Homo sapiens: one gene and its partners. The protein of the gene in region 1 interacts with the protein of each later gene in a biochemical or structural test. Each region holds a gene or a part of one and is shown on either strand. Other genes may lie near its edges. The genes, in order: EXOSC10, MPHOSPH6 and USP36.

What was found.
Region 2: the proteins of EXOSC10 (region 1) and MPHOSPH6 form a complex in vitro, tested with the Homo sapiens proteins (one study listed by IntAct).
Region 3: the proteins of EXOSC10 (region 1) and USP36 form a complex in vitro, tested with the Homo sapiens proteins (one study listed by BioGRID).

What each region holds. Positions count from the first base shown.
Region 1 is NC_000001.11:11,067,382-11,078,326, reverse strand, and holds part of EXOSC10 (exosome complex component 10), read left to right. Parts: intron 1-675; coding exon 676-726; intron 727-883; coding exon 884-962; intron 963-1,378; coding exon 1,379-1,485; intron 1,486-4,000; coding exon 4,001-4,096; intron 4,097-4,318; coding exon 4,319-4,393; intron 4,394-6,155; coding exon 6,156-6,240; intron 6,241-7,338; coding exon of another isoform or gene 7,339-7,353; coding exon 7,354-7,427; intron 7,428-8,596; coding exon 8,597-8,768; intron 8,769-9,620; coding exon 9,621-9,682; intron 9,683-10,242; coding exon 10,243-10,319; intron 10,320-10,945. UniProt on the Homo sapiens protein: Catalytic component of the RNA exosome complex which has 3'->5' exoribonuclease activity and participates in a multitude of cellular RNA processing and degradation events.
Region 2 is NC_000016.10:82,145,190-82,154,697, reverse strand, and holds the end of MPHOSPH6 (M-phase phosphoprotein 6), read left to right. Parts: intron 1-3,183; coding exon 3,184-3,274; intron 3,275-5,294; coding exon 5,295-5,389; intron 5,390-5,834; coding exon 5,835-5,967; 3' UTR 5,968-6,536; downstream 6,537-9,508. UniProt on the Homo sapiens protein: RNA-binding protein that associates with the RNA exosome complex. Involved in the 3'-processing of the 7S pre-RNA to the mature 5.8S rRNA and play a role in recruiting the RNA exosome complex to pre-rRNA; this function may include C1D.
Region 3 is NC_000017.11:78,795,815-78,806,759, reverse strand, and holds part of USP36 (ubiquitin carboxyl-terminal hydrolase 36), read left to right. Parts: intron 1-439; coding exon of another isoform or gene 440-473; coding exon 474-604; intron 605-2,781; coding exon 2,782-3,375; intron 3,376-3,904; coding exon of another isoform or gene 3,905-4,224; coding exon 4,225-4,436; intron 4,437-6,991; coding exon 6,992-7,093; intron 7,094-7,736; coding exon 7,737-7,852; intron 7,853-8,208; coding exon 8,209-8,340; 3' UTR 8,341-8,360; intron 8,361-8,857; exon of another isoform or gene 8,858-8,880; 3' UTR 8,881-10,945. UniProt on the Homo sapiens protein: Deubiquitinase essential for the regulation of nucleolar structure and function. Required for cell and organism viability.

The DNA of each region.
Region 1 (10,945 bases):
GAGATCCCGCCACTGCACTCCAGTCTGGGCGACAGAGCGAGACTCCGTCTCAAAAAAAAAAAGAAACAGGGTCTTGCTCTGACACCCAGGCTGGAGTGCAGTGGTGCAATCATGGCTCACTGTAGCCTCGCATCTGCTAGGCTCCCACCTTAGCCTCCTGAGCAGCTGGGACCACAGGCATACACCACCATACCCAGCTATGTTTTTTTTAATTTTTTGTAGAGATGGGTCTTGCTGTGTTTCCCAGACTGGTCTTGAACCCGTGGGCTCAAGCAGTCCTCCCACCTCAGCCTCCCAAAGTACTGGAATTACAGTTGTGAGCCACCTGCCAGCCCCACATTTGCAATTTTTGTGTTAAAAATGTCTTTGTAAGCTCTGTACTTTGTCCAAGTAAAGAGAGACCTTGATTACTAGAGAAGAGTCTTTTTCAAGCTCTTTGGAATCCTTCCTATTGTGCTTAGTCATGTTAAAGAGCTTTATTCTTTCATTCTACAAATAATTATTGAGCACCAAATAATTATCATGCCAGGCACTGTAAGGAGTGAAGAGAGGAAAGAAAATCTCTGGGCTTTTGAGAAACAGGCTGGTGAAGGAATACAGTCAGCGCTGGAGACTGGGGGTTGGACTTGAGGTGCTTGGGCAACTTTCCTCAATTCCCTTCGTTTTTTTCCTTAGTCTGAAGTTGCAGCCGGAGTGAAGAAGAGCGGACCGCTGCCCAGTGCTGAGGTAGAGTGTCGGATCTGTTTTCTCCCCCAGGAGGGAAAACGTCAAGTCACAGCCAGTGCAAGTACACCTCTGACAGAGGCCTGTGCTGACAGCTGGCAGAAAGCTACTGCCGGCTTGCACGTTTTACATGCCAGCCTGCTGGTGTCTTTTAATGCAGAGATTGGAGAATGTTCTCTTTGGACCTCACGACTGCTCCCATGCCCCTCCGGATGGCTATCCAATCATCCCAACCAGTGGTAAAGTCGAGAGCCCTCCTGACTGTCCCGAAGAGGTTGGGACACAGCTACCTTGTCTAAAATTCTGTAGGCTTGGCCGGGCGTGGTGGCTTATGCCTGTAATGCCAGCATATTGGAAGGCTGAGGCGGGTAGATCACCTGAGGTCAGGAGTTTGAGACCAGCCTGGCCAACATGGTGAAACCCCATCTCTACTAAAAATACAAAAATTAGCTGGCATGGTGGTGGGCACCTGTAATCTTAGCTACTTAGGAGGCAGAGGCAGGAGAATCACTTGAACCGAGGAGGCGGAGGTTGCAGTGAGCCGAGATTGTGCCATTGTACTCCAGCCTAGGGGACTACACTAAAACTCCATCTCAAAAAGAAAAAATAAACAAAATTCTGTAGGCTTTGACCTTACTATCTTCTGCTCCTCTAGGATCTGTGCCAGTTCAGAAGCAGGCGAGCCTCTTCCCTGATGAAAAAGAAGATAACTTGCTGGGTACCACATGCCTGATTGCCACAGCTGTCATCACGTTATTTAATGTGAGTAGCACAGAAACTTCACTGAGGTGATGAGGACCCCCTGGGATTTACTGGATTTATTCAGCAGGCTGTCTGCCTGGAGCATTGCATACACTCGGAGACTAATGCTGAGAGCAAAACCCAGCAGTGCTGGGAGAGGCATAGAGACCAATGAGCAAGGTGGCACTGACCACTCTGGAGGAGGTGGTCTGGGGACGTGGATGGGGGATTCTCTTGAGCTCTGTGTGAAGAAATCTTCCAGGAAAGGCTGACGTCCTGTTGTTGAACAGCACCTAGTGGGAGGAGGGCCTGCGCTAAGAGAACATACAAGCAGGGCTTTCCAGACAAGCTGCAGTGGTGGTGGAGGAAAAACGGTTCACCTGGATGCCCAGCAGGGGTGGCATGGGTGTACTGTCCGATGAACTGTAGAATGTGCGCTGCCCATAGCTTCCTGCCTGACCCCAGCACCACATATGTGTGCTTTCAGTGAAGAAGAGAAATGATTTTTTTTTTTTTTGAGACAATCTTGTTCTGCCACCAAGGCTGGAATGCAGTGGCACAATCATGGCTCACTGCAGCCTTGACTTCTGAGGCTCAAACGATCCTCCTGCCTCAGCCTCCTGAGTAGCTGGGATTACAGGCATGAGTCACTGTGCCCAGCTATTTCACTTTTTTTGTTTGTTTGGTTTGGTTTTTTGAGATGGAGTTTCGCTCTTGTTGCACAGGCTGGAGTGCAGTGGCATCATCTCGGCTCACTGCAACCTCCACCTCCCAGGTTCAAGCGATTCTCCTGCCTCAGCTTCCCTAGTAGCTGGGATTGCAGGCGCCCGCCACCATACTTAGCTAATATTTTATATTTTTAATAGAGATGGGGCCACTATGTTGGCCAGGCTGGTCTCGAATGCCTGACCTCAGGCGATCCACCCACCTAAGCCTCCCAAAGTGCTGGGATTACAGGCATGAGCCACCACACCCGGCATTTTTTTTTTTTTTTTTTTTTTTTTTTTTTGTGACAGGATCTCATCCTGTCACCCAGGTGGGAGTGCAGTGGCACCATCCTGGCTCACTGCAACCTCTGCCTCCTGGGCTCAAGCAATCCCTCTGCCCCAGCCTTCTCTCGAGTAGCTGGGACTACAGGTGTATGCCACCATGCCCAGCCAATTTTTGTATGTTTTGTAGAGGTGGGGTTTCACCATGTCGCCCAGGCTTCACTTTGGTTTTTAACTTAATTACATAAATCTAGATTGGGCCTTGCTTTAGCAATTAATGAGAAAATACTAGGCGCTTTAGCTGACCTCAGAGCTAATTTGAGTCATGAAGATGATTTAGCAGCTAAGCGTGTTAGCATGAGCTCTGGGCTGCTTTGATACGGAAGTGCTGTTTGGTGTAAAGGAGGCTGTGGTCTCCCTGCACTCTTGTGTTGCAAGGGCGCATAATTACAGATGAAGCAAAAGGATAGCACATATTTATGAACCCAGTTGGAAGCAGCATTTTGTTGCATAATTTCAATGATTCCCTATAAAGATATGTAATACTAAATTTCAGGCCTGGCGTGGTGGCTCACACCTGTAATCCCAGCACTTTTGGAGGGCAAGGCGGGCATATCACCTGAGGTCAGGAGTTTGAGACCAGCCTGGCCAACATGGTGAAACCCTGTCTTTAATTAGCCGGGCATTGTGGCGCACGCTTGTAATCCCAGCTACTCGTGAGGCTGAGGCAGGAGAATCACTTGAATCCAGGAGGCGGAGGTTGCAGTGAGCAGAGATGGCACCACTGCACTCCAACCTGGGCAACAGAGCAAGACTCCACTCAAAAAAATAATACATACATACATAAAATAAATTTCAGGCATCAATTAAGACCTCATGTTCTAGAGCCAGACCATGGTGGGTTTAGATCCTTGGTCTGCTTGTATTCACTGCAAGCCTCTGAAAGACTGTCACAACCTCTGTAGGCCTCAGTTTCCTCCTCTGTAAGATGGTGAGAGTAATACCACCTCATAGGCTATGAGGACATGCTGAGAATTCACTGATCCAGCACATTGATATTGAAATGCTACTGTGTGCTGTTGCAGACACAACACCTTATACATAAGAGAGTGTATGAAAAATTAGCCTTAGCCATTGGTATTAATATCACTGTTACTGGCCGGGTGCGTGCGGTGGCTCACACCTGTAATCCCAGCACTTTGGGAAGCCAAGGCGGGTGGACCACTTGAGGTCAGGAGTTCAAGACCAGCCTGGCCAATATGGTGAAACCTGGTCTCTGCTAAAAATACAAAAATTAGCTGGGCATGGTGGCACGTGCCTGTAATCCCAGCTACTCAGGAGGCTGAGGCAGGAGAATCGCTTGAACACAGGAGGTGGAGGTTGCAGTGAGCAGAGATCACACCACTGTACTCCAGCCTGGGCAAAAGAGCGAGACTCTGTCTCCAGAAAAAAAAAAAAAATCACTGTTAACTGTTGCTCTCTTGCTTGCATCTTGATGTCACAGATGATCATGGTCATTAGTGATCGTTTTTTGTCTGTCCCTGCAGGAACCTAGTGCTGAAGACAGTAAAAAGGGTCCATTGACAGTTGCACAGAAAAAAGCCCAGAACATCATGGAGTCCTTTGAAAATCCATTTAGGATGGTGAGTAGTAGTTTTGTCAGGGCTGACAGGATATGCAGAGATGCCTACAGCTGTACATGCTTTTACCTGGGAAGGAAGCCTCTGAAGCCAGTGTGTCGGCTGCCCTGGTGTCCTGGCAAAGACGCTGACAAGGCACCAGCAACCCCCCATCTGAGCGCTTCTGCCCCGTGGCTCTAGATTCCGTTCCCGGCAGCGTTTCACACAGCCATTTCCTTCCTCCAGTTTCTGCCCTCACTGGGACACCGTGCTCCCGTCTCTCAGGCAGCGAAGTTCGATCCATCAACCAAAATCTATGAAGTAAGTGGACTTGTCACCTGTTCTAAAAGAGACTTTTTTTTTTTTTTTTTTTTTTTGAGATGGAGTCTCGCTTTGTCACCCAGGCTGGAGTGCAGAGGCACAATCTTGACTCACTGCAACCTCCACCTCCCAGGTTCAAGCAGTTCTGCCTCAGCCTCCCAAGTAGCTGGGATTACAGGCACCTGCTGTCATGCCCGGCTAATTTTTGTAGAGATGGGGTTTCACCATGTTGACCAGGCTGGTCTCGAACTCCTGACCTCAGGTGATCCACCCGCCTTGGCCTCCCAAAGTGCTGGGACTACAGACGTGAGCTACTGCGCCTGGCCCTAAAAGAGACTTTCTAAGAAAAGGGGATTTCTTAATTATTCATACCAGGTTTCTGTTTTAGACAAGCCTATCTCATCTGTGAATCCCGTGAAAATGAATGCAAAAGCCCTTTATTTTCTAGCATTGTTTCTAGGGAAAGGGTCCAGAACTTCAGTGAGATTCTTAAAAGCACTTGGGCTGGGCATGGTGGCTCACGCCTGTAATCCCAGCACTTTGAGAGGCCGAGGCGGGCGGATCATGAGGTCAGGAGATCGAAACCATCCTGGCTAACATGGTGAAACCCCGTCTCTACTAAAAATACAAAAAATTAGCCAGGCGTCGTGGCAGGCGCCTGTAGTCCCAGCTACTCGGGGGGCTGAGGCAGGAGAATCGCTTGAACCTGGGGGGCGGAGCTTGCAGTGAGCCGAGGTTGCGCCACTGCGCTCCAACCTGCGCGACAGAGCGAACTCTAGCCAAAAAAGAAAAAGAAAAGCACTTGGAAACTTTGTAAGAAACAAATCTTCATTTGCGGTTTTTAAATTGAGGTTTAATCTATATGTAGTAAAGTACACAAATATTAAATATACAGCTTGATGCATTTTTATAGATGTCTGTTACTTTAAGGCTCTTAAAGGTGACAGCTTTAATTTTAAAACACTCTATCTTACTTATCTGGCTTGTTTTTACCAGCATTATGAGTAAGAATGAGAGCACACCTCCCCTAGACCCTCTTGAGATGTTCCCCAGAGCCAGAACGTGAACTGTTGTTCGCAGCCTCCTTCCTCCCTTTAGGAAGCGTCTGCTCTGATGACATGGGCGACTGGCTTCCTCTGTGTGGCAGCAGAGCTCTTTTGTTAGGCAAAACCGAGAGGTCCCCCAGCCCCGTTCCTGTCCCTGAGTTAGCTTGCTATTTTTGGAAATGGGGAATCAGGTGGGGCTTCTGCCTTCTCTCCTCTTTTCCCCCCACGGGTTATGTCACACTGAACAACTGCACGTCCTGTGTGTTATGCCCAGTGTCACCTCCATGTGTTGTAACGCCATAGGTCCGTGGGGTGTCATAAAGAAACACAGCAGACTTGCGGAAGCCCAGCCTTGAGTCTGCTTCTGTCATTTACTGACCATGTCCCTTGGACAAGTTATTTACTCTCCCGGAGTCTGTTTGCTCATCTCTAAAGAGAGGGTGATGACAGTACCTTTTTCCCAGGGTTACAGAGGGATTGAATGAGATGATGGATGGCCCAGTGCCTGGAGGACAGTAGCACTTTGTCCTTAATAGGGATTTTAGCAATAAAGCCAGCATGAAATTTATTTTTCATGCCCTTAGATTTGAAAATTTATGACTTAGAATGTGTGTACTTCTTAGGTTAACCTGCCCTTCGTCACCTCATGAAAAGTAAGACAGACTTAGGTGGCTGACTTTGGAGGGTTTTTTTTGTTATATTTGCTTTCATTATAGATCAGCAACCGCTGGAAGCTGGCCCAGGTACAAGTACAAAAAGACTCTAAAGAAGCTGTCAAGAAGAAGGCAGCTGAGCAAACAGGTAACACTCACTTCCTTGCAACTCAGTCGGCTGTTAAAGAATGGCTGTTGCACACCCGCTGTTTCAGCCAAGTGCCAGATACGGCGATGAATGAAGCCCCTGTGGGGCTTCCCTTCTGCTGAGGGATGGTGGGCAATCAGTATCTATCCTGGCAGATGGCAGCAGGTGCTGTGCAGAGAGATTGGTGGGGAGTGCTGGAGGTGCTGTAGCTGTCTCGTTGGTGGTTGGAGAAGGCAGTCTAATGAATGCGACATTGACGAGACCTGCAGTGACCTAGAGAAGAGTTCTGGAGCCACAGCACAGCGAGCCCAGAGGCCCTGGGGCTAGTTCACTGGGCATGCTGAGCAGCAGCAAGTGGGCCTGCATGAGCAGAGCGGGTAGAGAAGAGCAGGAGATGGGGAAGGAGCCAGCAGAGGCCCACGGGATGACGCTGCCTTTTACTCTGAGTTCAGAAGCCAGGAGGGTGCTGAGCAGACGGGGGGAAGTGACTGACATGTGGCACTCTGGCTGCTGTGTCAACAGTAGACTATAGAGGACAGGATGGGAGTCCAGGAAGGGATAGGAGACATGGCAGTGGCTCAGGCGAGAGGGGATGGTGGCTTTGAGACCAGCGTGGGAGCAGAGGAGGTGGTGAGAAGCTGTCAGAGCCTTGATCTGTCCCATAGCAAAGCTGACAGCATTTGATGATGAGGTGGATGTGGCATGTGAGAAAAGGGAAGGGAACCTTGGATGAAGGTTTTGTCCTGAGCAGCTGGAAAGCTGGAGTTGCTGGCAGCCAAAGTAGCTGGTTTGAGCAGGTTTGTCCACGATGGTGATGGTGACGATCCTGTTAAACGCCCTCAGGTCCACAGGCCACTGAGCATTTAGGTTCACAGAAGAGGAGCAGGCAGGGCTGGGGAGGATCAGCTCACGTGTAGCTGAAGGTGGGCAGAGCACCTGAGCCTGAGCTCTGAGGCAGCCTGTCCTGCAGAGATGGGGGACCGGGGACCTGAGAGGGAGGAGGAATCAGCCGTGACAACCCCTGTGGCTAGGCCAAGTCGGAGGGGGATGGAGATGGAGGGGAGGGTGGTTGCTGGATTCACCAACTCCAGAGACAAGTTCTCTCCCTTGCAGCTGCCCGGGAACAGGCAAAGGAGGCGTGCAAAGCTGCAGCAGAACAGGCCATCTCCGTCCGACAGCAGGTCGTGGTATGTGCCAGCTTTTCTCCTTTTTCCTTTGAAAAACGATGCCCCTGCTTGTGGTCAGGATCTTCCTTGGATATCTTAGGGGGCTTGCCCTGTGCTTTATATTAAGTCCTGACTTCTTTCCGGTTCACCTTAGCTTGGCTATTAGTGTCTACCTCATTTCCGAAACCTCCACAAGATTGATATTGTAATTCCTCTTAACCTTCTTCCACTGTGTTTATGGTAAATATGCCAGACCACTCAACTGTAGTAGTAGAAAAGGTATTGAGGTTACAGTGCTGAAGCTTGTTGTGTGTCCTGCTGTGTCCTACAAAAATGTTGCATTCTAGAGAATGAAACCCCAGAGCACTCTGGAACTCTTTTTTTTTTTTTTTTTTTTTTGAAGTAGTGTCTACCTCTGTTGCACAGGCTGGAGTGCAGTGGCACAGTTGCAGCTCACTACAGCCTCAAACTCTTGGGCTCAAACGATCCTCCCTCCTCAACCACCCAAGTAGCTAGACCACAGGCACACACCACCATTCCCAGCTATTTTTTGTTATTGTTTTTGGTGGAGACGGGGTCTCACTATATTGCCCAGGCTATCACTCGAATTCTTAACCCCTGCCCCCTGCCTTTCCTTTTTTTTTTTTTTTTTTTTAATTTCCTTTTAAAAAAAAAATAGTGACATGGTCTTACTCTTACCCTGATGCCCAGGCTGGAGTACAGTGGTGCAATTATAGCTCATTGCAGCCTTGTACTCCTGGGTTCAAGTGATCCTCCCACCTCAGCCTCCCAAGTAGCTAGGACTACAAGCACGCACCACCATGCCCAGCTACATTTGTTTCTTTTTTTTTGTAGAGATAGGGGTCTTGCTATGTTGCCCAGGCTGGTCTCAGACTGCCTAAAGCAGTCCTCCCACCTAGGCCGCCCAAAGCACTGGAATTATAGGCATGAGCCACTGCACCTGGCCTGCTTGCCTTTCTTAAATGACCTCATGTCATTGTCCAGTGAGGAATTTGTTTCAGCTGACCCTGAGTGTTGGTCCCGAAGTTCCAGCCACAGCTCCTCTCCCCACCACTGACTGTTCTTCTTACCACTTAGGCAGCTGGGTCCCAGCTATTGCTGAGGCCGGTGGAGTTCCCTGTTCCCATGTGCCTCCCTGTTCCTCCCCCACATCTGTTCCTGATCTACAGCTAGAAAATGCTGCAAAGAAGAGAGAGCGAGCAACAAGCGACCCAAGGACCACAGAACAGAAACAAGAGAAGAAACGACTCAAAATTTCCAAGAAGCCAAAGGACCCAGAGCCACCAGAAAAAGAGTTTACGCCTTACGACTACAGCCAGTCAGACTTCAAGGCTTTTGCTGGTGAGGAAGTAATGGGGCCCCATACAGGGACATCTGTGCGCGTCAGAGGGGAGGAAGCCATAAAGAGACCACAATATAGGGGCCAAGTGAGTCCTGCACAAGGCATGGTGCTAGCCAGGAATTGTTGGAGTAGTCCAGAGAGGCCGTGGCAATGTGGACAGTCGCCTGCAGCCTCATTACCACCTCCTCCATGGGAGCTCAACTCATGGTGGCCTCCATGGTGGGTTAGCAAGATCACCTGTCACTTCCACTGTGACCAGGGCGCCATCCTTCCTCACTATAACTTGTGCCCATAAACCCTCTCTCTCTCTCTCACACACACACACACACAGAATTTTGTTTGTTGAAAAATCTCAAAGCCTATGACATGAACCCCTATGGCTGCTTGGGCTGTGAGAGTCCGTCTGCTTTGAAGGGGCTACAGATGGCATTCTCGACTCTAGCAGCCTTCGGAGCAACATGCTCCTTTGGAAAAGAGAAAGCAGAGGCCAGTCCACACAATGGCCCTTTATACAGGAGTGTCGCCTCAGAGCCCGAGTTCCTTATGGCATCACCCAGCACAGAGATCAGAATGGATTTCCTTATGTGCGGGGGCCACTGCTGTAGCCACCTGCCCCTAAGGTCCTGGGACTAGAGCTGAGAGAAATGGGCCTGGTTTTCAGACTGCCCACAGGGACCAGGATCGCTATGTATTCATTTATGTGAGCCATGAGCCCTAGCCCCTCATCGTGACAGGGGTGCTCTCACAGCCAAGGCTTCCCTGAGTGTCATGGTCCCGGCCTCGCTGTGAGCCTGTGATGTGTGGTAACTCATTGACCTGACCGCAGGTCTCTCTCATCTCTTACCTTTCAGGAAACAGCAAATCCAAAGTTTCTTCTCAGTTTGATCCAAATAAACAGACCCCGTCTGGCAAGGTAAGAACTGCTCCTGGAGGATTTTAGCACGCTGGTGGCGCCTGTTTCTGACCTCCTCCTCTGCTGAGAAGACAGGCCCATCCAGGAGTCCATTCCTTTGCATATCTTTTTCCTCACCTCATTTCTTCCCAAGGGCAGACAGTACTGATCAGCTACCCCAGCAACTCATAAAACGAGGCTGTAAAAGCTGGCATGTGGCTTTAAAGGGTATTATTCTGTGTTTGCTACCATGGGAACTATAGCTGCAGGCCAAAAGCACCCCCTTTGGGGCCAGCACAAGCCTGCATTCACCCCTCGTGGGTGTTGGTGCTGGTGCCAGGGAAACAGCGTGGCTGTAGCTTCCACAGGCGCGGGGGCAGGGCTGCTTTGGGGTGCTCCTGTTCCTCTTGCAGCGCATCCTGGCGGCCTTGCCTTCAGAGACACAGAAACATCCTCTCTCAGGGGATCTAAAGTCACTCCTGTGCTGCTAGAATCTTTGGCCACCTGAGCTCAGGTGTGTTTTTCTGTGTATCTTGTGGTCAAGGTGCCCACCCAGCTTAAACGGTTTCTTTTCTTTTCAGAAATGCATTGCAGCCAAAAAAATTAAACAGTCGGTGGGAAACAAAAGCATGTCCTTTCCAACTGGAAAGTCAGACAGGTATGTGGTGGACGGCGGTGTGGCCCAGGGAGCCCAGTGAGAAAGCACCTGCCCTGCGTGGTGTGGTCCGTGGGGAGTAGCTGGGGAGCGAGTGTCCAGGGGTCTTCAACCAGGATGACTCAGAGAACCTCCCACAGCCAGGTCCCTCACGCCACTCGGAAAACAAGGGCGGGAGGTGATTTGCTCTGTGCCATACATCACAGAGCCAGGCACTGCACCCCAGGACTCAGATTCCCCTTGTTCCTGGCTCTCTAGTTACCGTGTGTCCTGGGGTCACCTCAGGGAAAATAGGTGTAAATAGTTGTGAAATTTTCCTGGACCAGCCTATTAGGAATGAGGAAAAAGTAAGCACATGTGGGTTATCCTTGTTGTTGAAGAGTGGTTTGGCTTGGTTTGGTTTTGTTTTGTGAGAGTCTCATTCTGTCACCCAGGCTGGAGTGCAGTGGCACAATCTCAGCTCACTGCAACCTCCACCTCCTGGGTTCAAGCAAGTCTCTCACCTCAGCCTCCCGAGTAGCTGGGATTACAGGTGCCTGCCATCATGCCCGGCTAATGTTTTTTTTTTTTTTCTTCTTTGAGATGGAGTCTCGGTCTGTCGCCCAGGCTGGAGTGCAGTGGCACGATCT
Region 2 (9,508 bases), on another chromosome or scaffold:
CAGTTTTTTTTTCAGTTATATAATTTATTTTTTTAAATTGTTTTTTCCCTTAATTATATAAGTTCTATTGGTGTTTTTTTGCAGTCTCTATTTCTTAATTCAGGCTTTCTGTTTCTTTCTTCATTGCATGCATGTTTTCGTTTAAATCCTTGAATAAATTTACAGTAACTATTCTAAAGTCCATTTCTACTAATTTCATTTTCAGTTGTTTTCTTTCTTTCTATGAGGGGATTACATTTTCTTGCTTCCTTGCATGTCTAGGAATTTTTTATTGTGTGCTGTACATTTGTATGTATTACATTGCTGACTACCTGGATTTTGTTATTTTTCTTAATAGAGTGTTGAATTTTGTTTCATTAGGCAGTTGACTTACATGCCAATCAGCTTGATTTTGTTAGGGTGTGTTTTGTAGCTAAATTGTCTCTACTCCTAAGGTGTGGCCTTTCTACTAAATATCACAGAGTGTTTAGCTTGTTCTCTCCTCTCTGGCTAGGCAGAACTCAAACATTTCCTTGCTCTGTGCAAGCTCTGTTATTTCTTCAACATGCAATTGCAGGGTAAATTTTTTTTCCCCAGGTATGGTAGGCTGGAAAATGGTCTCCCAGATAATATCTAGGTTTTCATCTCTGAAACCTGTGAGTGTTACCTTATGTGGCAAAATTTACCTTGCTGGTATATGAGTAAATTACAGATCTTTAGATGAGAGATTATCCTGGATTATCTGGGTGGGCCCTAAATGTAATCACTTTTCCTTATAAGGAGGAGAGGTGAGGAAGATTTGACACACAGAAGGCCTTGTAACCGTGGAAGCTTCTGGAGGGATCCCAGGCCTACTAACATCTGGATTTTGTACAGAACTGTAGGAGCATAAATTCTGTTGCTCTAAGCCACCAATTTTGTCAGCTTAAATTTGTTACAGCAGCCACAGGAAGCTAATGCAGCAGGTGTTCTCCCAGAAATCATCTCTCCAGCAGTTACTTTTTCCCTAAGTCTAAAGACTCATCCTGCACATGTGCAGCTTCATGGTCAGCCAAAGATTCAAGGGAACCCAGTATGCAGGTCCTGAATTCCATAGTGTAGCTCCCTTTCAGTGGTATCCTCACCCAGATATTCCAGCCACCACCATAACCCCAAACTTCAGTTTGTGCCTTTATTTTTTTCAACTAAAGCCCCAATGAAACAGTTTGTCTCTTAAGCTCAGCAAGACAGGGTTTTGTGTGAGTCCCCCACTCCCTGCTCCACAATCTGGAAATTGCCTCCAGGCAGAAAGCTCCGCATTCATGGGGTCTACTTCATTTGATTTTCTTCTCTCAGGCATCACAGTCATATGCTTGGATTTGTTCATTATCTGAAAATGGTCATTTTATATTTTGTCCTGTTTTATATAATTATGGTGCAGGAAAGCTAGTTCCATACCAATTACTCCCCTACAGCTAGGGATGGAATAACCTGCTTTATTTTCATCCATTGTGTGATATAAATGTTTCATGTTTCATTCATTATTTGGCCCCTCTTTCTATAGACTGTAACCTCCAGGAGAGCAGAGGCTCCTTTTTTTTCTTTTTTTTTGGAGGTGAGTGTTTGACACTGTCACCCAGGCTGGAGTGCAGTGGCACAATCTTGACTCATTGCAACTTCCACTTCTGGGATGCGAGCAGTTCTCCTGCCTCAGCCACCTGAGTAACTGGGACTACAGGCATCCGCCACTGTGCCCAGCTGAGGCTCTTTTACTGGTGGCTGTTTCCGCAGTTTGATTTAATACACACAGTTTGGTTTAATAAGTGTTTGTTGCATAAGGGAATCTTTATGAGAATCAGAGCCTACTCCGGCAAACAAGCCTTAAAAGCCACATGTTTGCTTTCCTGCCATGCTTTAGGGTTTATGGCCAGGCTGGAGATAGATATGTCACCTTGGATTTACGGTCATGTGGTGGTGACTCAGCAGAGAAATTCTGCTGCAGACAGAAACATCCTGGTCCAGGGAACGCAACCTGCCCCAATGCCATCAGTGGTGTCGTGCTCAGCCCCGTCAGCAGCAACAGTGGTTTTCCTAGGGTCATTCTCTAGCATGATTTTGGTTCTGGTGCAACCACCTAGCGACCGTTATTTCTGCCCGTCTTCCAATTCTGCCCCTTCAGCCTTCCCGGTGATTCTGAGATGCCCAGTACAGCTGGCTCTTTGTGTCACAGATTTTGATATCTACAAGGGGTCCTGGAACCAGTCCCCCTTGGAAATGAAGAGCCTACAGTGTTCTTACAGTAAATTCCTTCTCTGCTGAAGTCATCCAGGGTCAGCCTTTGGTGTTTATAGCTAAGAGCTCTGACTGATAACACTGTTAAAGCTGCTCAAGCCTCTGATTTCCCACTACTTCTCCTGGATTTGTAATAAGAATTTGGTGGGGGCCAAAATCTCAGAAGTCACCACTAAAGAACTTATCCATGTAACCAAAAAACCACCTGTTCCCCAAAAACTATTGAAATTTTTTGAAAAAAATCTGTGTATAAGTGCACCACACAGCTCAGACCTGTGTTCAAGAATCAACGTAAATGCAAGTACAAAAAAGACTGGAAGGAAATATTCAAATATACTAACAGTCCTTTTTATCCTCTTGGTAAGGAGCTTACAGGCAGTTTATAAACTCATACTTTATTCTGCTTTCCAAATTACGTTCCTTAAAATGTGCTGCTTTGATAATTAGAGAATGGAATTTTTGAAATCCCTGAGAACGAAAGACAAAATATGCCAGAAACTTTATTAAAATGATTTGGAGTAGTGTGTCACTGTATACTGTATGTGTATTTTTACATACATATTATTTCCTTTCTGAAAAAGAATTGGAAAAAAATATGGTGAGGGGATGTAAACACAAAAGAAACTTTGCTTCAACTTTGGCAAATTCAAGTTTATTGTCAATACTTTAGATCTTTATATTATGTAGATATTTATGCAAATTAAATGTGGTGTTTAAGAGAGGCTGTGCCTCTAGCTTGCTGCTCTTGTCTCCTAATGCCTTTGCTGACCAAATTAATCAGATTTTATTTTTAACCCTAAGTTAGAAATCTTACTGTATTTTTACTTCATTCTACTGAGAACCATAGGTTGATTATTTTTTTTATTCAAAGTGTTGGCTTTTGTTTGCTGTGCTTTATATATGGAGAAATGCTATTTTTATTTTCCCATTTAGGAGTTTCATAATAGAAGAGCAGAGTTTCTTACTATGTGAAGATCTTCTCTATGGAAGAATGTCATTCAGAGGATTTAATCCTGAGGTTGAGGTATTAAATATAATTGCTTCAAATTAAAAATTTTTCCAATTGAATTTTTTTCTGCTAATAATTGGGCTTAGGTGTTTCTCCACCAGGTACCATTTCTACTCATTATATAGAAAATAACAAGTCTTGAAATATCGCCATAGCTATTTAAAGAAATTGGAGGCATTGCAGTCTAGTTTTATGGTAGAGGTGAGTAGATAATTTCATATAGCAGTATACAGCCCTTGACAGAGCCACCATAAATATTAAAATTTCAAGTTGTGTCTTTTACAGGAACGTCAAGATTTTATTCATATCATGCTATTATGAAAAGTTATTTTCTGGCACCTATACATGTATTTTTTCTAACGGAAAAATGTTACTTTAGAATTATGTCATTTGACTTTTTAATGGACTGTTGTAATCCAAGCTTGTAAGTAGATTTTTAAATGAATCCTTTCGACAGTTTGTTTGAAAAATGAATATTTGCCTTATAACTGAGCTATTCATTTGAATTTTCCTGCTCCAGGATAGAGAAGCAGACCTTTATTTAACAAATATTCATTAGAACTCTGGCTCATATGTTAAAAGCCATCCTATCAAGTACTTGATGAACCAAATGGACACATGAGATATAAATCTTTAGTTTGGTAAATATTACTTGAAGCCAGTGTTTCTTGCCCTTGGCAGTGTTAACATTTGGGGCCAGATAATTCTTTGTGGTGGTGGCTTTCCTAAGAGAATGACGAACCACATCCCTGTCCTCTGTTCTCTACCAACTAAATATCAGTAGCACACACACACCCCACCCTCCTACCCAGCTGTGACAACCAAAAATGTTTCCAGACATTTTCACAGGTTCCCTGGTGGGGAAAATCATCCCCAGTTAAGAACCACTTCTCTAGGAGCCACAGTTAACTAAGCCAATTGCCAGAGTTTATTGAAAGATTCTAGGTTAGTTTTCCTTTTCTTTTTTGGCGGAGTGGGAGGAGGCATGTGTGATAATTAAGGTGTTATGTTAGAAGTGTTTGTTTTTAATATATGCTGGTCTCGCTTTGACTTTCTTTAATTAAGCTTCAGATTGAGAAGGAGAGGGGCTGGGCAGTGGGGTGAAGAGGGAAGAAAAAGGCAGGGATTATGAAGATGTGGTATTCAAAGAGTAGGGTTTGGATAGGCGAGCATTCCAAAGTATGTCTGCTGCAATGGGAAAGGAGAGGTGCCACTGCCCGCAGAAATTGATGGGGGGCAGGGACGGGTGTTAGAAAATGGCCCTAATTACTGGATTCTGAAACACTGAATACACTCCCCCTAGGAAAAGGTTTTAAACTATTATCACTCTTTTAAGCCTTAGAAAAACTAGTTAAGACTGATTTCTCATCTTTTATTCCTTCTCCTCTTGCTAAAAAGAAGAGATTACACATTTAAAAAAAAAAAGGTCAGAGGATAATTATCACAAAAAGGTTTATGTGAAAGAGTTGGAGGAGAGACCCTGTGGTGCATGGATGTTACATGGGATGCATTATCCACTCTAAAGTTTAGGAGGGTAAGGCTGAGGTGCAGATTCCCTCCATTAAACAGGGCCAGCCTTCCACTTCTCCCACCTCCTCCACTCACCACCACCACCACCAAGAGATGCATTTAAAATTATTACTGACGACTAGTGTTTCTTCCATATGGCTTAAAGATGGGTGGGGGAAGTTCAGGGAAAATCTGAAAGTTTATTATTTCTTCCCCCACTCACCGGAATGTGTCAGCAGTATGCCTGCTTTAAATATGAGTAACTAATACTAAGATTTATGATCTTAAATACACTTTAAATTCACCCTAAGTATAATTCAGTGGGGCTTTGCCTTACTATTTTTTTGACTCAGAGCTTACTTCTCTTACACCATTGTGGTATCAAGTATTACAGAGAGTCCCTTATCAATTTTGACTAGTTCTCTAGATTATTTGACTTCAGTTTCTCTGCCTTCAGGTAAGTTTGACATCAGTTCCTTTCACAAGCGTTTTCTAGCCTGAAGGTCAGCACTGGTGTATTTTTCAGAAATTGATGCTTCAGATGAATGCTAAGCACAAAGCAGAAGAAGTTGAAGATGAAACAGTAGAGCTTGATGTGTCAGATGAAGAGATGGCTAGAAGGTAACCGTGCTGCGCAGCAGCCTTCTAATCTGGACCTAGCATTCATTGGCTCTCCCAGGAATGCTCCTCTTACCCCACAGTGCACGGCAGCTTTCAAGGGAGTCCCCCAGTAGGACGATGACTGTGATCGGCCTTCTCTTAATGGCCTACGGGGGCCACAGACCTGTCTCAGGCTGCCAGTTGAGGGCCCATTTCCAGAGCTGCTGGAAATGTGTATTTTAAAATGTACATCTCTATTTATTTAGGGTAATGCAAACACCAAAATGGCAAGGAATTTAATCACTCTTAGAGAAGTTCATAAATTGTTAAATCAGATGGTTTCTTTTAATGATAGTTTTCTTTTTCGTAATCTTTTTTATTGCATATTTGGTCTGATATTCTTGACAAGGCTTGATCCCTACCTTTTTATTTGAAATTAAACGTGTGCTGCCTGTCCTCTTGACAGATATGAGACCTTGGTGGGGACAATTGGGAAAAAGTTTGCCAGAAAGAGAGACCATGCCAATTATGAAGAAGATGAAAATGGAGACATAACACCAATTAAAGCAAAGAAGATGTTCTTAAAGCCCCAGGATTAAGATGGATGCCTTAAGCGATGGCCCAGGGGTGCTTGGTGGAAGTCAGCAGGGCATCTGGAGCTCATCCCAATGGTGTCTCTATAGTTATTAATACTGTAACGTTTACTTGTAAAGAGATTATCATTTTAGAAACATGCTGTTTTTGAAACAGATGTGTGATGGATGTTGTACATCCTTTGCTTCTTGGTATTCATTCAGAGTGGATTTTTAGCCCCTGATCTACAAATGTACATTGTTACAGGGCTGCTTCCTAAAGATTTTTTTTACCTCAGGTTTCTCTTAATATAGTTCTCCAGTCACTGACCTTGAATTGACTTACATAAACTACTGCCAATGTTTAAATTGCCCTTATGTTTATATTTATTATGTCAAGCCAATTCGTACATACAATTTGGAATCAAATGTCATAAGAATTTATTATATAAATTTATCAAGAATAAAAATGCCTCTCCAGCCTTAAGTATTTACATGCTCCCAGGTCATTGTCAGTTTATGGTATTATGTTGTTTTATTTAAAGCATTGAATTGATAGAAAAATTTGCTCTGTAATAAAAATCTACTTTCACATACTTTTTATATTTTCTTGTACTTTCAAATAACAATTTTAGTCTAATTCAGTAATATAACTTTTTTCCAAATAATAACTTTAAAAAACAGCCATTGATCAGAATATAGTGATGTATTAGGTTGAACCATAAGAAATTGCCTTTTACAGGTCAAAAATAACCTTTAGTTTCTTACGGTATAACCCAACAGAATTTACCACTGACCAATGGTACCATCTCCTAGTCTGAACTCTATTCTAAATGCTAAGTACAGAAAGAAGCACATAGAATTAAGTGTGTGTATGTGTGTCTGTCTTTCTGTCTGCAGATAAGTACCTAGGACTTCTGAGAACTACTGATTTAATTTCGCTCCCAGGAAGTGAATGAGGTACATGTCTCCTCTCTCCTCAAATCTCTGTAAGGAAGGTTTTATTGCTCTGTGACCTCAGTTCTCTGGTGAGTTATGAGAAAAGATAGGACTTTGAAGTTAATCTGGCCTTTTTTTTTTTTTTCACTGTGAGTATGAGAATGATGCACCTCCCAACTCTGGGAAGTAACGAGTTCTTCCCAGTGCCTTACCAGCACCACAATCCACGGACTTACTACCGGACTTACTACGTGTCTTATGTACCTGTCTGCACAGTCGACTTCTGATTGACAAACTCATTTCACCATAAAAGAAGTGGGGTAATGGGGGCTTATGCCTCTTGAGTGCACTGGTCTTAGCATATCCCCCATCACCCAGGAATAGCGGGCATAATAGGACGATGGAATGGTCTGCTGAAGACACATTTATGGCCCTAGGTGGAATACAACTCCATCTGACAAATGTAACGTGTGCTTTGATTGAGTGACCACTCCATGGGACTGTTCTTGGTCAGAATGCACGGTCTGGAATCAAGCAGAGGTAGATGGAGTGGTCCCACTCATGGGTGATTTGTTTCCTGCTTCTCTTGAGTTCCCAAGGGAGGAGTGCTCCCGCTAGGGGACACAACAATGGCTCCATTGAGACAGGAATTGAGACTATCCAGTCATTTCAGCACTGAACCAACGGGCTGGAGGTTACTGTTTTGGCTGGTGCAAGTGATCCTGGCAACAAAGGGGCATTTATGTCGTTCCTACACAGTGGATGGTGAGAAAGGCATCTGGAACCCAAGGATTCTCTAGGGCATTTTTAGCACTTCCCATGTATGCCACTAACTTCTAAGGGACAGCTATAACAGTCTCAAAGAGGGGAATGATTGAGGTCCTTTAGGGAATGATGTTTTGGTACACCCCACCCCGTATAAATCCTGAGAAGCTGAGCTACTGGCTGAGGGAAGAGGAACCATGGGATGTGTAAGGAAAGAAGGAAATTTATTATTTCAGCCTTATGACTAGCCAGTTACAGAAACAAGTTACTGCAACTGTTACATGGAGGGTTGGCACTCCATATCAGTGAGTTCCAGATATCGACTTGACTAACCACAGAAAGTACTCAAAAAATAAAAATACAATAAAAAATAATATAAAGTACAATACAGTATGACAACTACATAGCATTGACATTGTATTAGGCATCATAAATCATCTAGAGGTAGTCTAAGGGATACAGGAGGATGCACGTAAGTTATATGCAAACATGCTGTCTAAGGTAAGGGGTTTGAGCATCTGTGGATTTTGGTATCTGCAGGAGGTCCTGGAACCAGTCCTTGGATACCCAGGGATGACTGTTTTCTTCTGCGTGTGTGTGTGTGTGTGTGTGTGTGTGTATGTGTGTGTACTAATTTCTTCTCTTACCTCCTTATTTTGTTTTCTTAGGGCGTTAATTTCGCTATTTAGTCGTAGGGTAAGAATATTAGGTGGGTTTGTGATTAATTTTAGGTGTAATTAACTGATAGAATGTCTGCTGGGACTTTGTGTCTCCTCATTTTGGAGAAAGGCTGAGGGTATCTTGTACAAAGGATGTTTGCAGTGTATTCGGTAGAAACAGTTGTTTTCCTTGTTGCAGGAAGTTTAGGTTAGAAGTCTGTGGATGCTAAATGGCCGAAAGGGCAGGTTGTGGCAGATTCAAAGCTGTTGCTTCACAGAATCAAACTCACCCTCTGTATTCAGCTTTTAGTGCCGGGCTGGGACTGAGCAAACCCCATGTCTCCTATGCAGCTGACTTAATTAGGATCAGCCAGTGGAGGCCCAGCTGGAGATGGCGAGGCTAGAGGAAGAAGACAGGATGTGTCCCTTCTCTCTGCTTCCTCTTCTTTTCCTATTTCTTTGTCACCCTCAAAACACCTGCACCCCAGCAGAGGCTGGTATTCCAGGAAGAGTTGTTAATATGAGTTTAGTCTTCCCAACACTTGCTGCAACAGCCTCATAGCAACTCCTCAGAGACATCACCAGCACCAACCACCCTGTATTCATTCCGACATCTGTCCAGCGCCTTGGCCACAGGGTTCCCCCACCCAACCCAGAGACACTGATATTAGCAGAATAACAACTTAATGTCAGAGGTCTGAGTTTTGGCTCTTTGGGGCCCCTCCCAAGTTTCAAAAATTGAACAATTTCCCTCTCTTCCCTAGGAGTCGCAGCTTCCTGCATGATACCTCAGTGTTTTCCTTTTGCCTCGTTTAGTTCTTTAATACCCAATTAACAATTCTTAATATTTAATTTCCTCTGTTAAAATAAGGGTGGCTTTTAATCTCCTGACTAGATTTTAACTGTTACCGACATCCTAAAGCAATAATATCTGAAATCATGGGTTTGCTAAGCTTAAAATGCTAATTTTTCTAATCTGCATTCAAGCGTATAATGATTAAAGTTGAAATGTTTATCTATCTACAACTTCCTGGAAGTTATCTCATGAATCCAGGAATTAGTATGCACTTTTTAAAAAACACTGCCTCTGTATTTTTTTTTTTTTTAAGTTTGAGTCAACTTTATTTTTTTTAATTTTTTTATTTTTTTATTATACTTTAAGTTTTAGGGTACATGTGCACATTGTGCAGGTTAGTTACATATGT
Region 3 (10,945 bases), on another chromosome or scaffold:
AGAGAGCCCTGATCTGGTGATGCTCATGTGACTCATGGAGGTTTGGGCAAGGTAGCAGTTCCCTGTTTTCACAGTAGGTGGAAGATCCTGACTGAACCCGAGGGAGGGTGGGCCCCACCAGCACGTGTCCCTAGCAGGGGTGGGGCGGGCAGGAAGCGCAGAGCCCCAGTGGGGTGCCCGGCACCTCTGCAGCAGGAAGCTTGGGCAGCCACGGCACGTGGATGTGATTGTTGTGCTGAGATTTTTGTTTAAATTTTCTTCCTTTTTTTTGTTTCTAACCAAAAATACTTTTCTGGTTCTTCTTCTACCATTCCCCTGCCCCTCACCTCCCCTTTTTGTCTTCTTCTGTCTCCTCATCTTTTTTTCTGGGCTCTTTTGTTTTTATTTTCATTTTTTGTTACTTTTGTTTTCCCTCTTCACTCACGGAAACCTTTTTTAGACCACCAAGTTTTTATTTATGTCGATAACTGCAGGCCAGCACCCTGTGGAGGGCGACCGGCAATGACCTCCGTCCACCTCCCCCCTCACCATCCTCCGACCTCACCCACCCCATGAAAACCTCTCACCCCGTCGTTGCCTCCACTTGGCCCGTCCATAGAGCCAGGTAAGCTTTGGGCCGGGATCTTCTGGGTGCCAACTGGTTCTCCCTGTGGTTGCGTGTGCTTGGCTGGTGAGGAGTTGGACGAATCGCCAACCTCACAGGACAGACAAAGCATTGGGGCAGCCAGGAGGTACAGGGGGGCGTCACTGACCAAGATCCCCCTCTTCTGTGTTCCCCTGTGGTAAAGGAGCTTTGGGTGGTGAAGGCAGTTCGGCCTCTGCAGTCCTGATGTCTTAGTTCTGTCTTTGTTGGTGGTCTGTCTGCGACATCCTTGTGGTGATGTGGTGTGCTGGGGACTGACCTGTCCTGTATCCCTACCAGCCCCATGACAGTACTTCCCAGTCGAAGAGAAAGGCGAAGTGAGGCCTTGGCGAGAGGCTTGAGTGAGCTCGGAGTCCCGAGCGTTTTTTGTGGGACGTCTTGCCTGCTAGCGTCATGCAGGTTAAGAACTGTCTCAGGGCTCTCGGGTTCCTCTGCAGACACCTGCCAGAGATGCAGCCCCTTCCCTGTGCATGTGGGCCCTGGTCCGCAGGGGCTGCCTGCGTCTCTTAGGTGCCTCGAGTGGCAGGAAGTTGAGAGTAACTGGTAAATGGCTGTCTGGAAGCCGCTGGGAGTGGGGACGGAAGCAGTGAAAGATGGGGTGAGTCATGAGGCGGCCTGCGGGGACTGTACTGGTGGCCTCGGCGCTGGGTTCTAGTTCTAGAATCTCCAGTGCTACATGAGGGCGAGGTATGACTGTGCGTCGCCCACAGCCTCTGCCTTACTCTCCTCTCACATATACACACACAAGCACACCTCTGCCCTATACCTAGCATAAGATTTGTGTACGTGGGAGGGCCTTAAGTGTTTGGGTGTTTTTCGTTTCTTGCCTTATAAGCTTTTTTGGAAAAGATTCCAGAAGACACTTAGAGTAATCAAACATCGTGCAGCTGGCATGGCCCTTATAGTTTGTTTAGATGATGACGGGGGTCCTGTTTTCTGCAGGAACCCTGGGAGGTGGGCTTTGTGGTCCCAGCTCATTGACAAATGAGAACATGGTGGTTCAGAGTGGGAAGTTAATTTTCCTAGAGACACATAGCTGGCAAGAGGGAGCCTCACTGGGTTCGGCACTAGATCCTGTCCCGGACACGCCTTGCTCATGATTCTGCTCTACGCATCTGTGTCCCGGTTTCAGCGTCCTAATGACGGTAATGTGGAGGTGTCATTAGGCCAGCTCAACACTTGCTTTCCTTATGAGGCTCATTTCCTGCCCGGGAACACCCTGAGACTTTCGGAGGTTGGAAAATAAATCCTCACGGGATCTTTTTTTTCCTTACCATTTATTGTTTCGTGAAGGTTTCCTCCCTTAACACATTTGTATTAAAGATGTTTTTACATTAGAGCTCGCAAAAATACTTGAATTGCTTGGTGACAAGAAACTAAGGCATGGAACAATTCTTATTAACTTTGCCTTTTAAAAAAAAAAAAATTTTTTTTTTGACTTTTAAAATCACGTGTTGGCTTGCTTTTTTTTTTTTTTTTTTTTTTTTTTTTAAATCTCAGGGATCAGTTATTTTAAGTTCCAGGGTACATGTGCAGGATGTAAAGGTTTGTTACAGAGGTGCCATGGTGGTTTGCTGCACCTATCAACCCACCACCTAGGTAACTTTGTTTTTTTTTTTTTGTTTTTGTTTTTGTTTTTTTGGTTTTTTTTTTTTTTGAGACGGAGTCTTGCTTTGTCGCCCAGGCTGGAGTGCAGTGGCGCGATTCGGCTCACTGCAACCTCCACCTCCCAGGTTCAAGCGATTCTCCTGCCTCAGTCTCCTGACTAGCTGAGATTACAGGCGTGTGCCACCACGCCCGGCTAATTTTGTATTTTTAGTAGAGATGGGGTTTCACCATGTTGGCTAGGCTGGTCTCAAACTTCTGACCTCAGGTGATCCAGCCACCTTGGCTTCCCAAAGTGCTGGAATTATAGGCATGAGCCACTGTACCTGGCCAACTTTGCATTTAAATAGATGTTGAATTAATTGTTAGCTTTCTTTCAAACATACATGTAACTTAATGTGTATCTGAAAACTACAGGGTAAAAGCCTTTTCAGATTTTTAGGTGAAAGGGAGGGGAGTGAGGGTAGACAGAAGGAACAGCTCTGCTGGGTCTTTCAGAACATCCTCTCCCTGTTTCCTGGCTGTCCCCACAGGGCTGTGTCACCTGCTCCCCAATCATCCAGCCGCCTGCAACCCCCCTTCAGCCCCCACCCCACATTGCTGTCCAGTACCCCCAAGCCCCCAGGGACGTCAGAACCACGGAGCTGCTCCTCCATCTCGACGGCGCTGCCTCAGGTCAACGAGGACCTTGTGTCTCTTCCACACCAGTTGCCAGAGGCCAGTGAGCCCCCCCAGAGCCCCTCTGAGAAGAGGAAAAAGACCTTTGTGGGAGAGCCGCAGAGGCTGGGCTCAGAGACGCGCCTCCCACAGCACATCAGGGAGGCCACTGCGGCTCCCCACGGGAAGAGGAAGAGGAAGAAGAAGAAGCGCCCGGAGGACACAGCTGCCAGCGCCCTGCAGGAGGGGCAGACACAGAGACAGCCTGGGAGCCCCATGTACAGGAGGGAGGGCCAGGCACAGCTGCCCGCTGTCAGACGGCAGGAAGATGGCACACAGCCACAGGTGAATGGCCAGCAGGTGGGATGTGTTACGGACGGCCACCACGCGAGCAGCAGGAAGCGGAGGAGGAAAGGAGCAGAAGGTCTTGGTGAAGAAGGCGGCCTGCACCAGGACCCACTTCGGCACAGGTAAGGGCAGGAGCAAAGTGGCATCTGTCTACCTCTGACGAGAAACAAAGCAAAACCACAGAATCTACCCCCAAGTAGGTATGGTCTGGAAACGTAGTCTGCTTGCGTGGTTTTCTAAAATGTGGATTTGTGATCAGATGTCTCCTCTGGCTGGGTGTGGTGGCTCACACCTGTAATCCTAGCACTTTGGGAGGCTGAGGCGGGTGGATCACTTCAACCCAGGAGTTTGAGACCAGCCTAGGCAATATGGAAAAGCCCTTTCTCTACCAAAAACAAAAATTGGTTGGGCATGGTGGCATGCACCTATAGTCCCAGCTACTCAGGAGGCTGAGGTGGGAGGATGGTTTGAGCCCAGGAGGTGGAGGTTGCAGTGAGCTGAGATCGCGTCACTGCACTACAGCCTGGGTGACAGCTAAACCCTGTCTAAAAAAAAAGAAAAAAGAAAAAATATCTCCTCTGATAAATACCAGTGGATTGATCCTTGAAGCGACAGTGGTGTGGACAGTAGTGTCCATCATTGTATGTGCAGGGCCGTTCAAGGATGCTGGATCAGGTGTCCCGGGCCAGGCCAGGATCTGCCGTTTCATCAGGTCACAGTAGCCTGCACATTGGCGTCAACAGGCTTGGCTCAGTTAGGATGGGAAACGCGACTGGTTTTCCCTCTACTGTCTCCGTGGCTGCGTGTGGAGCGTCCGCTAATGCGTGTGGGGGGAAGAATGTTGCAGGGACCTGCGTGCACTGGGTCACAGCTGGGGTGGCACCTTCTCCATGTTGCAGGCGGGTGTCTGTGCGCTCCTGCTCCCCTTCCAATTTGCTCAGAGCTGACTGCTGCCTCTCACTTCCAAGCAGCTGCTCTCCCATGGGTGATGGTGATCCAGAGGCCATGGAAGAGTCTCCAAGGAAAAAGAAAAAGAAAAAAAGAAAGCAGGAGACACAGCGGGCAGTAGAAGAGGATGGGCATCTCAAATGCCCAAGGAGTGCCAAGCCCCAAGATGCTGTTGTCCCCGAGTCCAGCAGCTGCGCACCATCCGCGAATGGCTGGTGTCCTGGGGACCGCATGGGTATGCACCGGGCGAGGGGGTGGGAACCGCATGGGTGTGCACCGGGCGAGGGGTTGGGGGACCGCATGGGTGTGCACCGGGCGAGGGGTTGGGGGACCGCATGGGCGTGCACTGGGCGAGGGGTTGGACCGCGTGGGTGTGCACCGGGCGAGGGGGTGGGGGACCGCGTGGGTGTGCACCAGGCGAGGGGTTGGGGGACCGCGTGGGTGTGCACCGGGCAAGGGGGTGGGGGACCGCGTGGGTGTGCACCGGGTGAGGGGGTATTGGGGAGTGCACAGGCTGAGAGCAGCGTCTACTGCATCTGAGCTTGGGAGGGTCTGGGAGAAGATGTGGAGGGCCCTGGGACCCTACCAACCTTCACCCCCCACCCCCGAGTCTGCTCCCTTGGGTGATGGGGTTGAAGCTTCCTCATGTGTCACAGCATTTGACTGAAACAGCCCCATGAGAGAGGTTACAGTGCACATGAACTTTAAAACATTCTGTGAATGCCAGTGGGTCTTCCGATTCAAAGCTGTTCTGTCTACAGCTTCTCACGGAATGACTCCCTGAACTCCCAGCCTGAGTTTTTTTCTGTGATGGTTGAATTTAGAAGAGTTGGGTTCAAAAGTGAATCCTCCTCTCCCTCTATGTAGCTGGGCCATTCAGAACATAGCACGGTTTGCTTGCTGTTGGGGACCTGTGTGCTGTGGCTGTCCTTGGGCACCACCCCTCAATCGGAGGGTGTTTTGTTTTCTTTAGGGCTGGCTGGGGCATGCCTTGGCAGGCACCCGCCACAGAACACATTTGTTAAGTGAAGGGGAGAGAAAGTCCTGGCTGCTTGGTATAGGGGGCCGAGCTTGAGTGAGGCCTCCTCTGCAGTCTGGAAGGTCTGATTATGGCAGTGCATCTGGGGGTCAGCAGGACCTTAGAGACTGATTTGTATTTATCCAACTCTTAAGAAAGGAATTTATCGTTAAAAATGAAATGGTATGAAATAAATAGCAAAACGTGGGTGCTAGCTAGTGCCGACTGAGTTTGCTGGCCAGCATGCTCTCAGAAGTACTGCCCTGGCCGGGGGTGGTGGCTCACGCCTGTAATCCCAACACTTTGGGAGGCCGAGGCGGGCGGATCACAAGGTTAGGAGATCGAGACCATCCTGGCTGACACGGTGAAACCCCGTCTCTACTAAAAATACAAAAAGTTAGCCAGGCATGGTGGCGGGCGCCTCTAGTCCCAGCTACTCGGGAGGCTGAGGCAGGAGAATGGTGTGAACCCAGGAGGCGGAGCTTGCAGTGAGCCGAGATTGCGCCACTGCACTCCAGCCTGGGTGACAGAGTGAGACTCCGTCTCAAAAAAAAAAAAAAAAAAAAAAAAATACTGCCCTAACATGGCACCAGAGCTGTGCTCCGTGCCACCCTCGGAGCGAAGTGGAGTTGGCTTGTTAGTGCAAGGGACATCACTTGAGCACTTGCGGTGCGCCAGGGTCCATGCCAGGTGCTGGTTGTGTCTACTGAAGTGCGCCCTGGGCCCTCGGGGCTCCCTGGCAGAGCCAGAACCACACAGTAAGGGCTCATGCTCAGCAAGGAGGCGCTGGGGGCCGCATGGGCTCTTGCAGTCCTGTGCACCTGAGGAGAGTGGCTAAATGGGCAGGGCACCAGACCCAAGGGCAGGAGGCGCAGCACGTTGGGAGCAGGCAGGCTGCTCTGCATGGCCGGGTCCCTGGGCTGTGTGGATGAGATGGGAACCATGGAAGCCACTGTGTGGGGGCAGGGGACACTTAGCCTGGAGCTCACTGAGGAATTGGAGGCAGGGAGAAATGAGGTCAGATTTGTGTGAAGGGAGGTGAGTATATTCCAGGGGCTATGTGGCTAGCTGGGCAGAGGACGAGTTCAGAAAGGGTTTCTAGAACCCGATGAGGGTGGTGAGTGCTGTCCTGGTCCCGAGGTGCTGGGTGGACCTGTGCGGTGTTGCTGATGGGGACCAGGTTCCCCCTGGACAGGGCTTAGGAGGTCGGGCCCCTGATGGCAGCAGCCAAGCTTGGCCGTTCCCTCCACCCCTGTGGCCATCCAGGTGTCAGGCTGGTCCTGGGGCATGGGCCTCTCCCGTAGGTGAGGTGGATTCCATTTAGATCTAGTTCTCTTCTCTCCTTCTGTCAGACTGAGGACTTAACACTACTGGTTAAAGGGGTTTTGGAGGGTTTTTTTTTTTTTGGTTTTTAGCTTTTTGTTATTTTCCATGTTTTCTTTCTCATGAATTGACTTGGACAACAGCCTTCTCTATTGTGTCAGGTCATTAGTAAATTAAGCATGTAAGCATTAGTAAATAAGCATTTAGGCTGGGCGCCATGGCTCATGCCTGTAATCCCAGCACCTTGGGAGGCCAGTGGGAGTCCCAAGGAGTTTGAGACCAACCTAGGAAACATAGTGAGACCCTGTCTTTAAAAAAAAAAAAAAAAAAAAAAAAAAAAGGCAAGCATCCACTTACTGTAAGTTGTTTTATAATTTAAGGTGTGCGATTGCTTCCCCAGTGGGTTATTTTAAACGTCTGTAAATGTTTCTTGGCTGCTCCGATTGCAGGGCTGAGCCAGGCCCCTCCTGTGTCTTGGAATGGAGAGCGGGAGTCTGATGTGGTCCAGGAACTGCTCAAATACTCATCTGATAAAGCTTACGGGAGAAAAGGTACTGATTTGGAGACAGGACTTCTGTTTGCCTTTCATTGGTTGGTTTTGTAGGAGGGAAGGGTGTGGAATGGATCCTGGTGCACTGTGAGTGTGGCGGGCGGGCATCGCTCGGCTTTGAGAATGGGAAGAGGAATCTCAACACTGGCTGGAGTCCTCTTTAAACCCTCAGCCGTGGCACGAAGGTGGCTTCTGTCCGTGGCAGGATCCAGAACAGCTGCTTCTGAGGGTTGGGGCAGGGTGAGGAGCCCCACACATGCTGTGTCTTGGGTAGGGAAGGGGCAGAGTGACGAAGCTCTTCCAACCTGGGTAATGTCACTTCTTGCTCAGAGCATGTTTTTATTCAGACTTCGAGACCAAACATGACATCTTTGTTCCTCAGACGAGGGCATGGGTTTAGAAAGAACTGAACTCTTTGGCTGTGGTTTAGGGTTTAGCTAAGAGGGCATCGCTGGGGGTTCCATGCTGACCGACCACACATGGGCGTCGAGCCGTCCTCCTCTTGTCCTTCTCTTCACCACAAGGTGGCACTCAAAATTGTTGACTAATTATGAGTAGACTAGTTGGTAAATGACACTCTTGAAGTGAAGCCACAGGGGACCTGGGAACCTGCACTCGTGCTGACCCCCGTGTCTGCCTGGTAGTTCTGACCTGGGATGGCAAGATGTCGGCGGTCAGTCAGGATGCTATTGAAGACAGCAGACAGGCCCGGACTGAGACCGTGGTTGATGACTGGGACGAAGAGTTTGACCGAGGGAAGGTATGATGTGTGATGCTGACCACAGGCTTGAGGGAGCAGGGCGGCGTGGCTCAGCTCAGAGCCGGGGCAGTTGGAGGTGGCGGCAGTGGCATGAAGCGGCCGAGCATGAGAAGAGCCAGGCTGCCCAGGCCTGTCCGGGCGTGTGGCCATGGACAGGGCATGCATCCTCGCAGCTTCCGCCCCTTTGTCAATAGGGGGACTGCAGGTCGCCGTGCACAGGGGTCATTGTGAAGAGTGGGTCTCCAGAGAGCTCATGAGAGCCCGGCCTGTGTGCAGGACCTGCATGCAGCATGGAGCCCCGTGGGCCAGGAAAGAGCCGTTTTTGGGAACTGTGATGCCTGTGATTCTTGGTCTAGGAAAAGAAAATTAAAAAATTTAAGAGAGAGAAGAGGAGAAACTTCAACGCCTTCCAGAAACTTCAGACTCGACGGAACTTCTGGTCTGTGACTCACCCAGCAAAGGCTGCCAGCCTCAGCTATCGCCGCTGACTGTGCCCCTGTGGAAGGAGGTCGGTTCCGAGGGGGTGGGTGTAAGGGTGAGGTGGGGGTGTGTGTGCCGTGTATGTGTGTAGGGGTGTGGTGGGGTGTGGCGTGTGTGTATGATGTATGTGGGCTGTGTATCTGGCACATGTGTGTTGGGTGGTGTGTGTGGTGTGGGCGCGTCTGTGGTGTGTGTCCTAGTCACTTGGAGAAGGGTGTGTGTGGGATGCGTGTGTATAAGGGGGTGTGTGTGGGATGCGTGTGTATAAGGGGGTGTGTGTAGTGTGTGTTGGGTGTGGGGTGTGTACACCTGGCATCTGTGGCATGTGTTCTGGTCACTTGGAGAAGGGCATGTGTGGGGTGTGTGTGGGATGTGGGTTGTGTGTATATCTGGCATGTGTCCCAGTCACTTGCAGAAGGGTGACTTCTTGCCAGCCGCATCGAGATGCCATGCATTGGGTTCCTAGGTTGGACTCATACCCGAGGGTGGCAGTGGGAAGATTCGGGTCTCGTTTCTCTCTGTCAGGACTACCGTGGTTTGTTCTGCAGCCTCCTGGAGACAAGGCGTCCCTTCCCGGGAGCTGTCGGTCTGGATCTGAGGGAGCTCTCTGTGTGGGCTCTGCTGCGCTGGGAGCCTGTCACGGTAGGAGCTCTCCCGGTACCAGTGTCCACAGACCGCCCAACACAGAGGCTTTGAGGCTTCTCTAGATCGGAACCTCTTTGGTGACATTCCCGACCAGCCCTGCAAGAGAAACGACAGTGTGTGTGTGAGCAGAGGTGGCCGCACACCTGCTGGACATCTTTGCCAGGCTGTGCCTTCTCATGTTTCATAGACAGTGGTCTGTGCTGGCAGAGGCTGCTGCCCCTGGTTGGGGCTATCAGGAGAGTGGGGGATGGTGGCCACATGTCCCCCAGGTGGTCTCCCGGTGCATAGCTGGTGGCTCTGGGCAAGCCATCCCTTGCTTCTCGGGGCTGACGCCACCGTTGTGTCCGAGCCCGCCCTCCCCTGCTTCCTCAGCGGGACCCCTTCATCTGTTGGCCTTACCTGTCCTCAGAAAGGAAGAGGTGACCCCACCCAGCCACCTCTCCCTTTTATGGAACTCGAGAGGGTGGCCCTACTGTGCACCCCTTCCTTGTGAGTAGCTCTCAACTGTCCTGGAGAGCAGAGGCTATTTGGGGTCGGAGGAGCCCTCGATACCTGCGAATACATCTGCTTTCCAGGCTGCTGTTTATTCTGAGACGACTGTGCTGTAGCTTCCCTTGCAGCTGCAATAACCCGCAGGTCTTCACTGAGGTGGAGGCTTTGGGGTAGAATTCTCCATTTATTTTACTACTTAATACAAAACATTTATTTTTGACCAGTCCTGTGGCTTCCATTAGCAATATGTTTCCTTTCCCAAATATGCAAATAGTGGCTTTGTTTGCTCAATTTTGTGAGTGCTTTGGAATTTAAATGATTGTATAACTCAAGAAGATTACTTTTCTATGTTGCTCAAGCTGTGCCTGCCAACTTGTAACTTAATAAATACAGGAAATCCTCAGAGAAGGTGATATTTTCAGGAAAAAGACAAATGCCCTCATAGTAGTGGGAAGTGTGAAGGTGACCGTGAACATCCTTCCTCATCGGGTCTGTCCCCGTCATTTCCTCCCGGAGTCGTCGCAGGTGGAGATGGACAACGTGGTGTTGGACTTAGACCTCCTTCAGTGTGGCTCTGCTGGGCCAGAGGCATCCTGCTGTCCCGGGTGGCTGCCTCGCTGTCTGCACCCCCTCTCCCTGGGGCAGCTTTGCTTCCTGCCCCTGTGCTCGGGGCCTGGGTGGTTACTGGCGTGTAGATGGAATTGCTTTTTTAATATGGGAAGATACATTTATTTTTTTCCATGTGGGTGGGTGTCTCTTTTTGGATTTTCTTCTGTTTTTACGTTTCTCTTCTTAGAAGGGTGGGAGAGAATCAAGCTCCTGTGGCCACCTGTGTCCCAGCAGCAGTGAGTGGAGCTGCTCAGGGTGCCCTCTCCTGCGGACCAGTCTCTGAATGTTCAAAGATGAGGGCCTGGCTTCCGTGCTCTGGCTTTGTAACTTATCTGGAAGGGAAAGCACATGCCTTCACGGGCAGGGTATGTTCCTTTTCTTCTCGGGGTGTTGACTTGCATTCCTGTGTGAACTGTTCCCTCTGCCATGTTTACCGTGTGATGTTCTGTAGTTGAAAATGTTAGTTGTCTGCTGGCACAGAATTTATCTCGTTCCTTTCTCTCCCTTCTCTCCTCCAAATCAGTCTCTTCCCTTCTCCACTAGATAACTGTAAAACCTTTTCCTGGGGTACATACATTCGTTAACTCTTGGGCAGTGGTGAGCACGAGATGACTTTCTGCAGCGTTTATCACTGTTGGGTGGAGTCACGTCCCTTCCCTCCACCGAAGTCATCAACCAGATAGGGAAGGGAAAGATGAGGCCCAGAAAACGAGTTCAAACTCTAGGTCTTGTACACGTATGTAAGTAAATGTCAATAACCCAAGCCTTTGTCATAGCAGTCACTTGGTTGACTTAGGATCTGGGTCTGTTGAATTTTGTGCTTGGGAATGGAGCTGGAGGGAGTGGGGCCTGTGTACAGCAGCTACC